Linked DNA regions of Homo sapiens: regions 1 and 2 are each linked to region 3. Evidence: fine-mapped expression QTL. A gene starts in region 3. Each other region holds a variant in brackets. All regions are shown on one strand. Distances are from middle to middle. Region 1 overlaps VAMP4 (vesicle associated membrane protein 4). Region 2 has its middle 45 kb from the start of MYOC. Region 3 holds the start of VAMP4 (vesicle associated membrane protein 4).

What was found. PIP is the estimated chance that this variant, and not a neighbour inherited with it, causes the effect. A credible set is the group of variants that fine-mapping cannot tell apart.
Region 1: its variant is the best candidate, but not a certain one, in a credible set for the expression of VAMP4 in skeletal muscle (GTEx, PIP 0.67).
Region 2: its variant is the best candidate, but not a certain one, in a credible set for the expression of VAMP4 in prefrontal cortex (CommonMind, PIP 0.74).

What each region holds. Positions count from the first base shown.
Region 1 is chr1:171,703,271-171,707,517 of GRCh38, forward strand. VAMP4 (vesicle associated membrane protein 4) reads right to left here. Exons shown (of 8, transcript NM_003762.5): 7 at 3,097-3,148; 8 at 1-1,264. The coding sequence ends at 1,236. Among named protein-coding and RNA genes, the nearest start is that of VAMP4, 37 kb to the right of the region's middle. The variant C/T (reference allele first, on the strand shown) is at 2,205.
Region 2 is chr1:171,695,253-171,699,499 of GRCh38, forward strand. No RefSeq gene overlaps it. Among named protein-coding and RNA genes, the nearest start is that of MYOC, 45 kb to the left of the region's middle. The variant A/C (reference allele first, on the strand shown) is at 2,255.
Region 3 is chr1:171,739,900-171,744,146 of GRCh38, forward strand. VAMP4 (vesicle associated membrane protein 4) reads right to left here and starts at 2,166. Exons shown (of 8, transcript NM_003762.5): 1 at 2,011-2,166.

The DNA of each region.
Region 1 (4,247 bases), 37 kb before region 3:
AAAAGACACAAGGAGGTTGGCATATTTTAAAGTTAACACATTTTTTCATTATAAAAACAGGCTTAGGTTAATGGTCACTCTCTAGCATTTGGTTACCGACTGACTGATTATCATATGTGTGCGTGTGTGTGTGTGTGTGTGTGTGTGTTTGTGTGTATATATATATATATATATATATATATATATATATATATATATACACATAGGTTCCTGACTTTCTACTACTCATTACTGTTGGCTGATGCAAAATTTGATTGTGCAACATACATCTCCTCAAGGATGAACAGGAAATGCAAAGATATAAAATTCAAAGTATTAATAGATGGTTTTGCTACTTTTTGTACTTTTGGTAAATGAGATAGTTGGAAGTTAGAGGCTATTAACTAAAATAAAATTAAGGAGTAAGTAAGTTACCTGTAAATTTCATTTACTCACATTAGGACTGACTGGTCTCTCTTTATTGGAGTTTAACAGAAAACAGACTGGACCATGACTGGCAGCTATATATTGGTCATTTTCAAATACTCCAATGACACTCTTCAATAACTTTATTATCTCCAGTTTTATGATGCCATACCATGTTTTTTCACACTGTTTAAAAATTTCCATTTCCATAATCCAATGCCAAAAAAATTACTACACATTCTCTTACACAGTCAAAAATATATTTACTGGAATGTTTTTAGTTATACCTGAGGGCAACAACATTTACAACATTTAGCTTTTGTTACACCTATAAATGTGGAAATTGCTTGCAAAACAACTGTAATATGAAAGGAACTATATTTCTGCAAATATTGACAGAATGGTTATGCATCTCTTTCAGCATATAATTTGGTACTCTACACAGGCTTCCTGACCCCCAGCATGACCCGCTCCCTAATGCAATAATGCAAGTCCTTATGCCATTAAAATATTAATATGAAATATTATAATCAGTGTTTATATACACAAATAATGAACTGGCAAGTATCTAGTTTCAAATTAGATCCTTGAAATATGGAAAAATAGAGGCTAGTTCTCTTTGCCTTAAACATAATTATTAAAAGAACATTTTGTTAGAAAGGGAGAAGATAATTGGACATTCTCAACGTTCCAATTTGAAGTGATACTTGCCTCTTAGTTTCTTGAAAAAGAAGTTTTGAAAGTTATATACACATAGGTTTCATTTAAATTATGCAGCAATCTTTTATTACTGTCCCAGATCTTGTTTAATGAAGATCTCTGTCATCAAATCAAGTACGGTATTTCATGACTATAAGAACTGTAAGAGAAAACATGAAAAAAGCAATATATCAACATCAGATATATATGCTATGTTTGAAGCAATATTCCTAAATGTAGTTGTGTCTACTTTTAGAAATGGGTAATGAGGATTGACTGAACTTTTATCTGAGGTAATAAATAATCAATGGGAAAGGAGAAGCAAAAAATATCATAAAACAACCTAAATGTCTAACATTGGCATCTTAAATAAATAATGGCATAGCCATAGCTTGTATCTGCTGTTAAAATATTACTAAAAATTTTGATAACCTGGGATAATAGTCACAATATATTTATTAGAAAGTACATATAATATAGTCTTAGTTTTTTAAAAAACATGCTTGTATATTAATAGGAAAAGAGAAGTATATATAATAGTTATATTAGTAGCTATCTCTACTAATTGTAAGATTATAGTTGAATTTTTCTTCTTTTTGTTATTAATATTTCACATTTTCCAATTGCTCACTATATATACATGATTGATTCTTGGTTTCTGAGGTAATTATTTTCTATAAGGTCACTACAAACACTAAATTAGTGAATATGGAACCACTGCTTCTAGGGAAAATATAGGGTTAAGTTCCTGTGAGTCTCTGGCTACTACATTTTTGTCAATCAATGCATAACCTTGGTTTATATGTGTTTCTGTTTAAAGACACTTTATTTAATATGTATTATTGATTCAGTAACACTGTGCTCAAGGCCAACAGCACTATAATTCATGCCTGAACAAAAGTTTGCCTAATGTGTATTTTTTCCATGAAGACACATCACAGCTCTCTTGTACTGAGCAACACTAGACAGCACTTCAGCACCACGTGTGGGGACCATTTTAAACAGTGAAATCACCAACAAAAAGCACAACAATGCAGAAAATGTGGTACTAAATAGACTACAAAAAGAATGTTTATGTTATGAGTGCTGAAATAAAAAGG[C/T]AGAAATGGCTTTGTTTAACCTCAGCTAGGGATGTGTGGGTTGGGGGACTTACAATTTTTTGTTACTCTGAAAATGTCTGTAAATGACTGTGAAAGCACCATGAGTACTGATTTTGGGGTTACAAATAAATTTTACCTGGTAACTGGATTTGCAAACACGGAATCTATGAATAATGAGGACTGACTGTATTTCTTTGTAACAAAACATTTTTTTCTGTTTAAAAATATAACAGCATAATATAATTTTTCAAATGATTATTTTTAGATACTTTCCAAAGCGTCATAAAACCTCTCTGTAAACATAGGCAGAGGCCTTGAAGAAAAAGAGATATTTAAAATGATCTGATTTTTAAAAGAACATTAAGGGAAAAAGGACGGGAAGGAGTCATGCTTTAATGATGGAAATTATGCTCAACTACAGAACAAAACAAAAACCAAACAAAAAAAAATCATCTGGAGAACGTATTTGGATTTATACTTCCAAAACAATATTACAAAATGCAAACTGCCATTCCTGAGAGTTAATAATAAATAGAAAATGAGTATTTTAGACCTTAGTGTAATAGGAACCAGATTTGGCCTTGAACAAATCACTTAGCCCTGGATTTGGGGGTGAGGGTTGGGGGCAGAACAGGAGTTCCCTTTGAGAATCTGACAAAAGATATAGACCCTCTCTCCATAAAAATGTACATATACATATTCACATAAAATTTTACATATTACTTAAGAGCATTTTCAGAGATCAATAGATTCTAAGAGCTCCTGAGACAGGTCAGAAGTCATTATTCAATCCTGACTTCAGACATACTAGGTCAACTGAAAATAAAAGGGAATTAAAATGAACTCCAAAATAAATGATACCCTAGGAAGTAATAATCCAATAAATACTTACTGATAATCACTAGCAAAAGGATAGCAGCAACCAAAGCCATGATGGCTTTTATCTACAACACACAAAAGGGCATATATATTAATATTTGACTTGTTAATAAAGTCAAGACTATTTGTTGTTCTATTTACTGCATCATACTAAATCATCTCATCACCTTAAGGTTTCTTAACTACAAAACTGACACAGAATGCTCTTAGGCAAAGTTGCTTATTACATGAGGCTATTCATAAAGAATCTAAAATATATTCCTCAAAATGGAGATAAAAATGCAAAGAAGAAAGTAAGGGGAGAAAAAACTAACAGAATTCTCATATACTTTGAAAAAAAGTGCTATAAACTGCTACCTTCGATGTATTGAACCATTTGAATTGCATGGCCTATGTTATTCATCATATCTTGACACTTGAACAGAGTTGCTAAAATACTGTACATTTTCTCTGGTCTCACATTAGTAATAAGCCCATCAAATCATAGAGGTTCAGTTTATATGATAAAGTACTTTAAGCCTTTTTTATTAATCTGAAGCATTTCTAAAACAATTTGGAATTTCTACGGTAGTTTTTCAACTTTACCTGAAATGTACATTAATTTGCCCTGTTAAACGTGTGTTTGGCTTTACTTAAGAAGATTTGAATGAAAACATCAATATCAATTTTAAAACACCTCAATGAATAGAGTTTTCTTCCTTGGGTTTCTAACACTGGGCAGAAAATGTTTACAGCTCCAAATGGCAGTATTGTATTCATGCAAGTCCAAAGCTCTCTTATTCCAAATAACATGAACAAAAATCTGTTTGTCATTAAACATATAAGAGTTTCACAGCCCCCAGATATATTAAGAGAGGTGTTAGCGATTCTCTTTCCCCACCTATGGATAATTTTATTAACTCATTTATTTTTAAAGCCAGGTATATTGAGATACACTTTACAAAGAATAAAACTTATCCTCTTAAAATACTTTTGATAGGTTTTGACAAATATATCCAGCTGTTAATAAACATGACCACAATCAAATATAGGACATTTCCACCAACACCCTTAACAAGTTTCCTCATGACCTGTTGTGAGTCTCCAACTGCACGACATCCCCCTTAGCCACTGGCAACTCCTGATCTGCGTTCTGCCCTTATATCCTTTTTCTTAAAACCCTTC
Region 2 (4,247 bases), 45 kb before region 3:
TCCTTTAAGCACTTCTCTGTATTGGTTATTCTAGTTATACATTCTTCTAAATTTTTTTCAAAGTTTTCAACTTATTTGCCTTTGGTTTGAATTTCCTCCCGTAGCTCAGAGTAATTTGATCGTCTGAAGCCTTCTTCTCTCAGCTCGTCAAAGTCATTCTCCATCCAGCTTTGTTCCTTTGCTGGTGAGGAACTGCATTCCTTTGGAGGAGGAGAGGCGCTCTGCTTTTTAAGAGTTTCCAGTTTTTCTGCTCTGTTTTTTCCCCATCTTTGTGGTTTTATCTACTTTTGGTCTTTGATGATGGTGATGTACAGTTGGGTTTTTGGTGTGGATGTCCTTTCTGTTTATTAGTTTTCCTTCTAACAGACAGGACCCTCAGCTGCAGGTCTGTTGGAGTACCCGGCCGTGTGAGGTGTCAGTCTGCCCCTGCTGGGGGGTGCCTCCCAGTTAGGCTGCTCGGGGGTCAGGGGTCAGGGACCCACTTGAGGAGGCAGTCTGCCCTTTCTCAGATCTCCAGCTGCGTACCGGGAGAACCACTGCTCTCTTCAAAGCTGTCAGACAGGGACATTTAAGTCTGCAGAGGTTACTGCTTTTTGTTTGTCTGTGCCCTGCCCCCAGAGGTGGAGCCTACAGAGGCAGGCAGGCCTCCTTGAGCTGTGGTGGGCTCCACCCAGTTCGAGCTTCCCGGCTGCTTTGTTTACCTAAGCCAGCCTGGGCAATGGCAGGCGCCCCTCCCCCAGCCTCGCTGCCGCCTTGCAGTTTGATCTCAGACTGCTGTGCTAGCAATCAGTGAGACTCCGTGGGCATAGGACCCTCCGAGCCATGTGCGGGATATAATCTCCTGGTGCCCCATTTTTTAAGCCCGTCGGAAAAGCACAGTATTCGGGTGGGATGACCCGATTTTCCAGGTGCCATCTGTCACCCGTTTCTTTGACTAGGAAAGGGAACTCCCTGACCCCTTGCGCTTCCCAAGTGAGGCAATGCCTCGCCCTGCTTCGGCTCGTGCACGGTGCGCGCACCCACTGACCTGCACCCATTGTCTGGCACTCCCTAGTGAGATGAACCCGGTACCTCAGATGGAAATGCAGAAATCACCCGTCTTCTGCGTCGCTCACACTGGGAGCTATAGACTGGAGCTGTTCCTATTCGGCCATCTTGGCTCCTCCCTCCTGGTACATCATTTTCAAAACTACCATCTTCCTTCACATCTTCAACATAATTAATACATTCAGTAATTATGTGAGCACTCACTGTGACAATTGCTGTTGTAGTGAGTGGTTTGGGATATATCAGAGAAAATTCTGGAATGTTAGAATGCTCTGGAAAAACAGAGGGTAAAGGGATTGGATGGTGTACTCGGGGAGATTTTGAGAAAGTCATTCAAGAGAATGACTTTCATACAGTGGTTGAGGAGGAGGAAGGGCTTTTCTGGCAGGAGAAACAGCAAGTCCAAGGCCTATGGCAGGAGCACACCTGGTGTGTCTGAGGAACAGCAAAGAGGCTGGTGTGGCTGCAGCACAGCAAGGAAGGCAAAGACAAGGGCAGAGGTCAGCAAGGTGACTTGGGGATGCATCACGAGACCCTGTAGGCCACGGAAAGAATTTTGGCTTTCACTCCAAGGAAGATGGGAAGCCACTGAAGAGTTTTCAGCAAAGCAATGGCATGATCTGATTACATTTTGAAAGAATTTTTCACTATTCTGTTGAGAACAGACTCTGGGAAGAGGGGGAATGGTAGAAGCCTGAGACCAGTTAGAAAGCTACTGCAGTATTCCAGGTAAGAGATGATGGTAGGAGAGGACCAGGTGGTCACGATGGAGGCAGTGTGAACTGGTCAGATTCTAAAGATATCTTAAAGGTAGCACCAGAGTATTTCCTGATGAATTAGAGGTGAGTTGAGAGAGAAGTTATGGAGTCAGTATGACTCTACAGTTTTTGGCCTAATTGGAAGGATTCAGTTGCCATCAACTGAGATGGGACAGAATGCATGTGGAGGAGGTCTGTGAAAGCAGACTGGAATGCGTTTGGGACATGCTCAACTTGAAATAATGAAGACGTCAAAAAGAGTACCAGATGACTCCAAATTCAAGGGAAGTCAAGTGGGAGACAACAACTTGAGATTTGTCAGCACAAAGATGTGATTTCAAATGACAAGATTAGGTAAGATTTCTAAGAGAATGTGTGTAAACACTGGACCAAGAGCTGAATCCTGGATACTCCAATATTAAGAGTTGAGGAGAACAGGAGGAACAACC[A/C]TAAGGGTAAGAAGAAACAAAGCCCTGGAAGCATGTATGAAGGAGAAGAGAGTAATCAACTGCATCAAATGCTGCTGTTGCACAGAGATCAGGACTGACAATGGACCACTGGATTTAGCAATACATAGGTCACTGGGCACCTCCCAAGAGTAAGGCTGGTGGAGTATGGAGGCAAAATCTTGACTAAAGTGTTGAGGAGAATAAAAAAAAAAAATGGAAATAGCAAGTATAGTGAAATCTGTCAAGGACTATTACTATAAAGAGGAGTAAAGATACGGAGTGGAGCCAGGCGTGGTGGCATGCACTTGTAATCCTAGCTACAAGTGAGACTGAGACAGGAGACAGGAGGATTGCTTGAGCCCAGGAGTTCAAGGCTGCAGTGAGCTATGATTGTGCCACTGTACTCCAGCTTGGGTGACAGAGTGAGACCCTGTCTCAAAAACAAAACAAAAAATCCTCTGCAGCCAGGCATGGTAGTTTACTCCTGTAATCCCAGCACTTTGGGAGGCCAAGGTGGGAGGACCACTTGAGCCCAGGAGTTCAAGACCAGCCTGGGCAACATAGTGAGAACCCGTCTCTAAAAACAAACAAAAACCCAGAGCCCATGATTTCAGCACCCATGTTCTTTTTTTTTTTTTTTTTTTTTTTTTTTTTGAGGCGAAGTCTTGCTGTCACCCATGCTGGAGTGCAGTGGCGCAATCTCAGCTCACTGCAAGCTCCACCTCCCGGGTTACACCATTCTCCTGCCTCAGCCTCCAGAGTAGCTGGGACTACAGGCGCCTGCCACCACGCCCGGCTAATTTTTTGTATTTTTAGTAGAGATGGGGTTTCACTGCGTTAGCCAGGATGGTCTCAATCTCCTGACCTTGTGATCCGCCCACCTTGGCCTCCCAAAGTGCTGGGATTACAGACGTGAGCCACCGTGCCCGGCACATCCATGTTATTTCTACTATACAACTCATATACTATTCTGCCTCTCTAAATTCTGCCACAGGAAAGTATATGTCAGGAAGAGGACAATTATCAAAAATGTATAGCAATGAGGGCTGGTCATGTTGGCTCATGCCTGTAATCCCATCTACTCGGGAGGCTGAGGCAGGAGGATGGCTTGGGAGTTCAAGGCTTCAGTGGGCTATGATTGTGCCACTGCACTCCAGCTTACATGACGGAGCAAGACCTTGCCTCTAAAAAAAAAAAAAAAAAAAGATGGATGTGTAGATGTGTGTGTATATAGATATACGCATATATATACATATATTTTATATACACATATACATATATTTTATATATATACATATTTACATATATTTTATATATATACATATTTACATATATTTTATATATATACACACATATATACATATATTTTATATATATATATACACATACACATGTATATAGTGGAATTTGGCGGGGGGGAGTGGAGAAATGACATGGAGTTTTTTTAAGGAAGACAGAGTTAGTATGTTGCTGGGAATGATCAGGAGGATGTTCTCTTTTCTGTGTTTTTACAATGTTACTCATAGGTCCATGTGCATCTTTTTAGACATCCTCAGATGAGATCTGGCCCAATTACTCAATAAATAGGGTAAGTGCACTATCACTGACTGCTCAGCTGTAACTTTGCTTACTAGTCAGAATCCCTTCTTACACTGACAGCTGAAAAGCAGGCTGATAGTCACTGCTCCACAGCAGTTTTTAGTGTTCGATGGGCACACACTAAGTATGACTCTGTTGGATTTAGGTAGTATCTGATCTTCCTGCCCGGTTCTCTCATCTGTTGAATGGTGGATTGTATTAAACACCATCATTCTCAGAGTGCCCTTACCAGGTTGCTTCCTGTCTCCATTTCTAACAACAGCACTTTATTTGTGAAGACTATCTCAGGGTACAACGTGCCTCCAATGTCATCTCCCCTCCCATGGCTTTTTGTAGTATTAAGACAATAAAGGCCTGGTATGGTGGTTCACACCTGTAATCGTAGCACTTTGGG
Region 3 (4,247 bases):
ATACTAAAATTTTTTTTTGCGAAAAAGTTCTTCTATGCAAATAATGAATTTTCAGTATTTTTGACTAGATGGTAGATGAATACCCATCAATTCAGGATAGCTCAGAAATACTGAATGTTTTACTATGTGCTAGGCACGGTGCTCAGTGATACACATGCATTTTCTTTTACTCTTTATGATGCTTCTTTAAAGTAGGCACCAAGAAACTAGGAGAAAACTAAAGTTTAGTAACGATAACGTTAGTCACTACATTCATTGAAACAGCAGAGATACAGGCCTAAATTAATCAATGGCTGTGCATTATCAGTTTTAATCATTTGTTCAATTAGTTGCCCATCAGGTTTACAGAATTCTGTTCTAGAAAGACTCACTTCCTGCTAACAACCCAATAGTCCTGCTTCCTTTTCCATAAGAAGAAACACTTAGACCTTTAAATTAGGTATAGTTAGACATCAGTTTGTTTGTTAATGATATACACTTAAAAAAGAATAATCCCAGGATCTGGCTTCACGAACCAAATAAAAGTAATGTTTTAAGTCAGCTGCTTGTCAAAACCAAAGGACACACTTTTCTTTGATAAGAAATGCTTCCAAATCAGAAATTATTCACTTGTAACAAAAACCAAATTCTTGCTGCCTGAGTAACAGCTCTTGAGTTCTTGGTTCCACAATATTTCTGTCACATACATCTGGCCCTTTTATTCCTCATACTTTGATGTCAGAATACTTCATTCATGCAGAAATGTAACAGAATGCATGGAAAAACAGATGACAAGGCAAATTACTGAAGAACTTGTGCTTTTAACTATTATCTGTATTTAGATTTTAACCCCTGCAATGAGGCTGCCTCAACATCCCAAAGCAAACAACGGGCAGACTTATATAATGCCTTTATAAGACATACAGTAAAACTACAATCTTAAGGATGAGCAAACACCATATTCAGGTCTCTTAATCCCAAGAAACCATGTGCAACAAATAGCCCATCAGCAAAGCAGTAGGCAGATTAATTAGCTACCTTGATGAACTTTGATGTTATTTGCAACTGATTATTAGTAACTGATATGTGTATCAAACAACTAGTAGAAATAAATCATGCTCAGAAAGTAGACTAGGATATAGTCTGCCTAAGATTTCTCCTACAAAAAAAGACATGTGAATTCAGCTGTTTGTGACTAGGTATACATGTAAATAAGAGAGCCATCATGTACTTCCACATTGAGGATAGACCACCACTATACAATTCACTCAAATGAGTCACATCACCGTATGCTTCTTATACATCAGCATATACTTAAATGTCTATGTGTGCGTTTTTGTAAGTAGTACGTTATCTAGTCAATAGCTTTGAATCTGGGCAAAGGCTCTCCTTTTCCCAGCCTCCATTCTCTTTCTGATTCGTCTTCCTTGTCTGTCATCAGCCTTCTTGCTTGATGCAGTTTCACAGAAATAAAGTGACTTGGATGGACACAGACCGGAGATATTATTTGCAAAACCTGTCAAGTGTAACGATTCACCCCCACCTTCCGGTCATTATAAACACAGCAGGGTTGGCGCTCTTTCCCCCGGGCCCTTTAAATACACAATTTCAGGCAGCTCCGTTCACCCCCCACACCCAATCTGTCACACCAGGCCACGTCCCACGATATATCTGCTCCTAACGCTGGCCCTTCCTGCCCCATTGTACCCCCTGGAATTCCTCACTACATCCCACTCTTAACAAACCTTCCCCATCCATGGTACTGTTCTCTTCCCATCACCCCAGAGTACCCCTCAATTCCAATTCTTCTCTCCCTCAACTGCTCCTCGTCCGCATACCCCTGTCCTCGTCTTCCTTCCTCACGGCACCCCCGGCCCCAACCTTTTCCCACTCCGGGGTCCCTTCCTAGATCCCCGAGGCCCGCCGACCAGCCCGACTAGGACGTCGGGGGGCGGCAAGGCAGGGGCGTCTTCTTCGTTTCCTTCCTCCTCACACCAGCCCCTCCCGCTGCGAACAGGCCAGCGCCAGTACCTGAGGCTCCCGGGGAACTCCCGGCAGCTCTCCCGGGCTGGCGGTGCTGGGCGGGCGGGGGAAGGAGTAGGAAGCCGAGGTAAGAAGCTGGGAGGGGGAGACAGTTGGTGCGGACCCGGCGTCGGCCGCAGCGCCGCAGCAGCGCCTCCGCTCATCGAGCCGATCGGCGCTCGGCGGCCTGGCGCCAGGCGGAGGGGGCGGGTCCAGGGCACGGAGATAATCGAGGAAGTCGATCCGCCGAGCCCTATTCACCTAAAAGAGCCCGAACCCACACGCAGTTTAGATGCATCTCTCCAAATTTATGCTGTGCTTTAGGGGAGGAACAACCACTGGTTGTCCACGTTCCGGTCGTGATCCGGCGTGCGTGGAGGGCGATTAGGGGAGGAGTGGGAAACTTCCGAGAACCGCTCGGGACTGGGCGCCGCGCCGGAGTGCGTGGCTGGGGTGATGAGGCGTTAGAAAGAAGGTGGTGCTTGGTGGCACATCCGTCCCTCTGGCTGACTACGTTGAGTGGCAAGTGGAGAGTGGCTCGCAGCTCGAGGACCTGCTTCGGGTTCGTCTGGGGCCTTTTCTGAAGAAAGGAGATCTGTTTGATCCCCTGTTTACAGAATTAGAGCTAGACTTGGAAAGAGATGTTAAGGCCAGGCTCCTCCCTTTAGATAGGAGGAATATCTGGTTCAGAGAGGAGATTGACTTAAAGTTAACACGGCTAGTTTAGATAGATACGGGACGAGGGCTCGGTGTTCTTTTCCCGGTATCCCTTAGTTGTAACCTGAAAGCCTTCAGGAAATCGCCCTCGCCAGGCCATTCCGCCACTCTGCCCATTCCTTCCTCACTCCCTCCCCCTCCGCCCAATTTGGTATCATGTTTAGATCTCCACGCCCGCAGTAGCTGTCTACCAGAAACAATTCCTAATTTTGTTTTTCCGTTCTCTTATTTGTTTTATTATCCGTTCCTCCCACGCCCCAGCTGGATTATTTTACTCATTGAATCATATTCACTACACATCTTTTAAAATTAATACAGTATCTATGGGTCCTTTGTTGATACAGTATTTTAACTGTCTGAAATACTGTGCCAGGCACTTTCTAAAGACATAAAAATAAGAGGGGGTGTTCAAGAACAAGAGTAGACAAGAAAACAGCAGGAGGAAAGATCTGCGGACACTAAAGGAAAGGAAAGAATAGACACCCTCTTACCAAAAAGTTGTTCTTCTTTTGTTTGATGTTTATTTTTATGTAAAAATGTACTAACGAATTTGAAAGATGCCATGACTAAGGCAACGATGCTCCACTCTGATTCACTTGGAGTTGAATCACTTGGAAAGCTTTTAAAACTACGTAGGTGCCCACGTGCTACCTAGATTCTGATTTAAATGTTCTGAGATTTAGAAACAGCCGTTGAGTTGTCAGTTGAAGGTTCTGAAAGCTTAATGCTAAACTCAGTTGCCTGTGTTTATTCAGTCCAAGTTGCTGTCCAAGTCAGCAACTTGGACTGAAACGGCCCACTTAGAAGAGAAGCCTCTCATGGTTTGTATCCCTGTCTAGGTGTGATAGTGGGTCTACCCCCAGACTCCACAGGTAACCCTGACATTATTTTTTCTTCTACAGCTGATCTTTTTTTTTTTTTTGAGATGAAGTCTCACTTCTTCCCCCAGGCTGGAGTGCAGTGACACAATCATAGCGCACAGCAGCTCTGAACTCCTGAGCTAAAGTGATCTTCCTGCCTCTGCCTCCCAAGTAGCTGGGATTACAGGCATGAGCAGCTGTGCCCAGCACTTACAGTTGATTTTATGTCTGTATATTTGCATGTTATGGGCTATTTTCTGGCTTTGGTGCCTTAGCCAATTAGAGTTTAGCTAGTTATAGCCTCATCTCTTAGACAACTTAAGGTGTGGTCAGTGAGCTCTAACAGGCACGTCATTGCATAGCTTTTACAGATAATCCATTCTTTGGGTTTTTTTGTTTTTTAAACATAATTCTTTAGTCCTGCCAGTCATTTTGGAATGATCGCTTAGGAGAGGGGTAATGCAAGCCCCACCCTTAATCACCTGAACAAAGTCCCTTTGACTAACCCCAATATTTGTGAAACTTAGAAAATGTCATTTTACAGTTAACATGAATCAAATATACCAGTAAGCCTAAAAGATTATAATAGCACTGAGCTTAGAGTCAGAACTCCAAGCAACTTGAGTTACTTATTTCCTCCATTTTCTTTTTAGTGAGCTTCAGTTATTC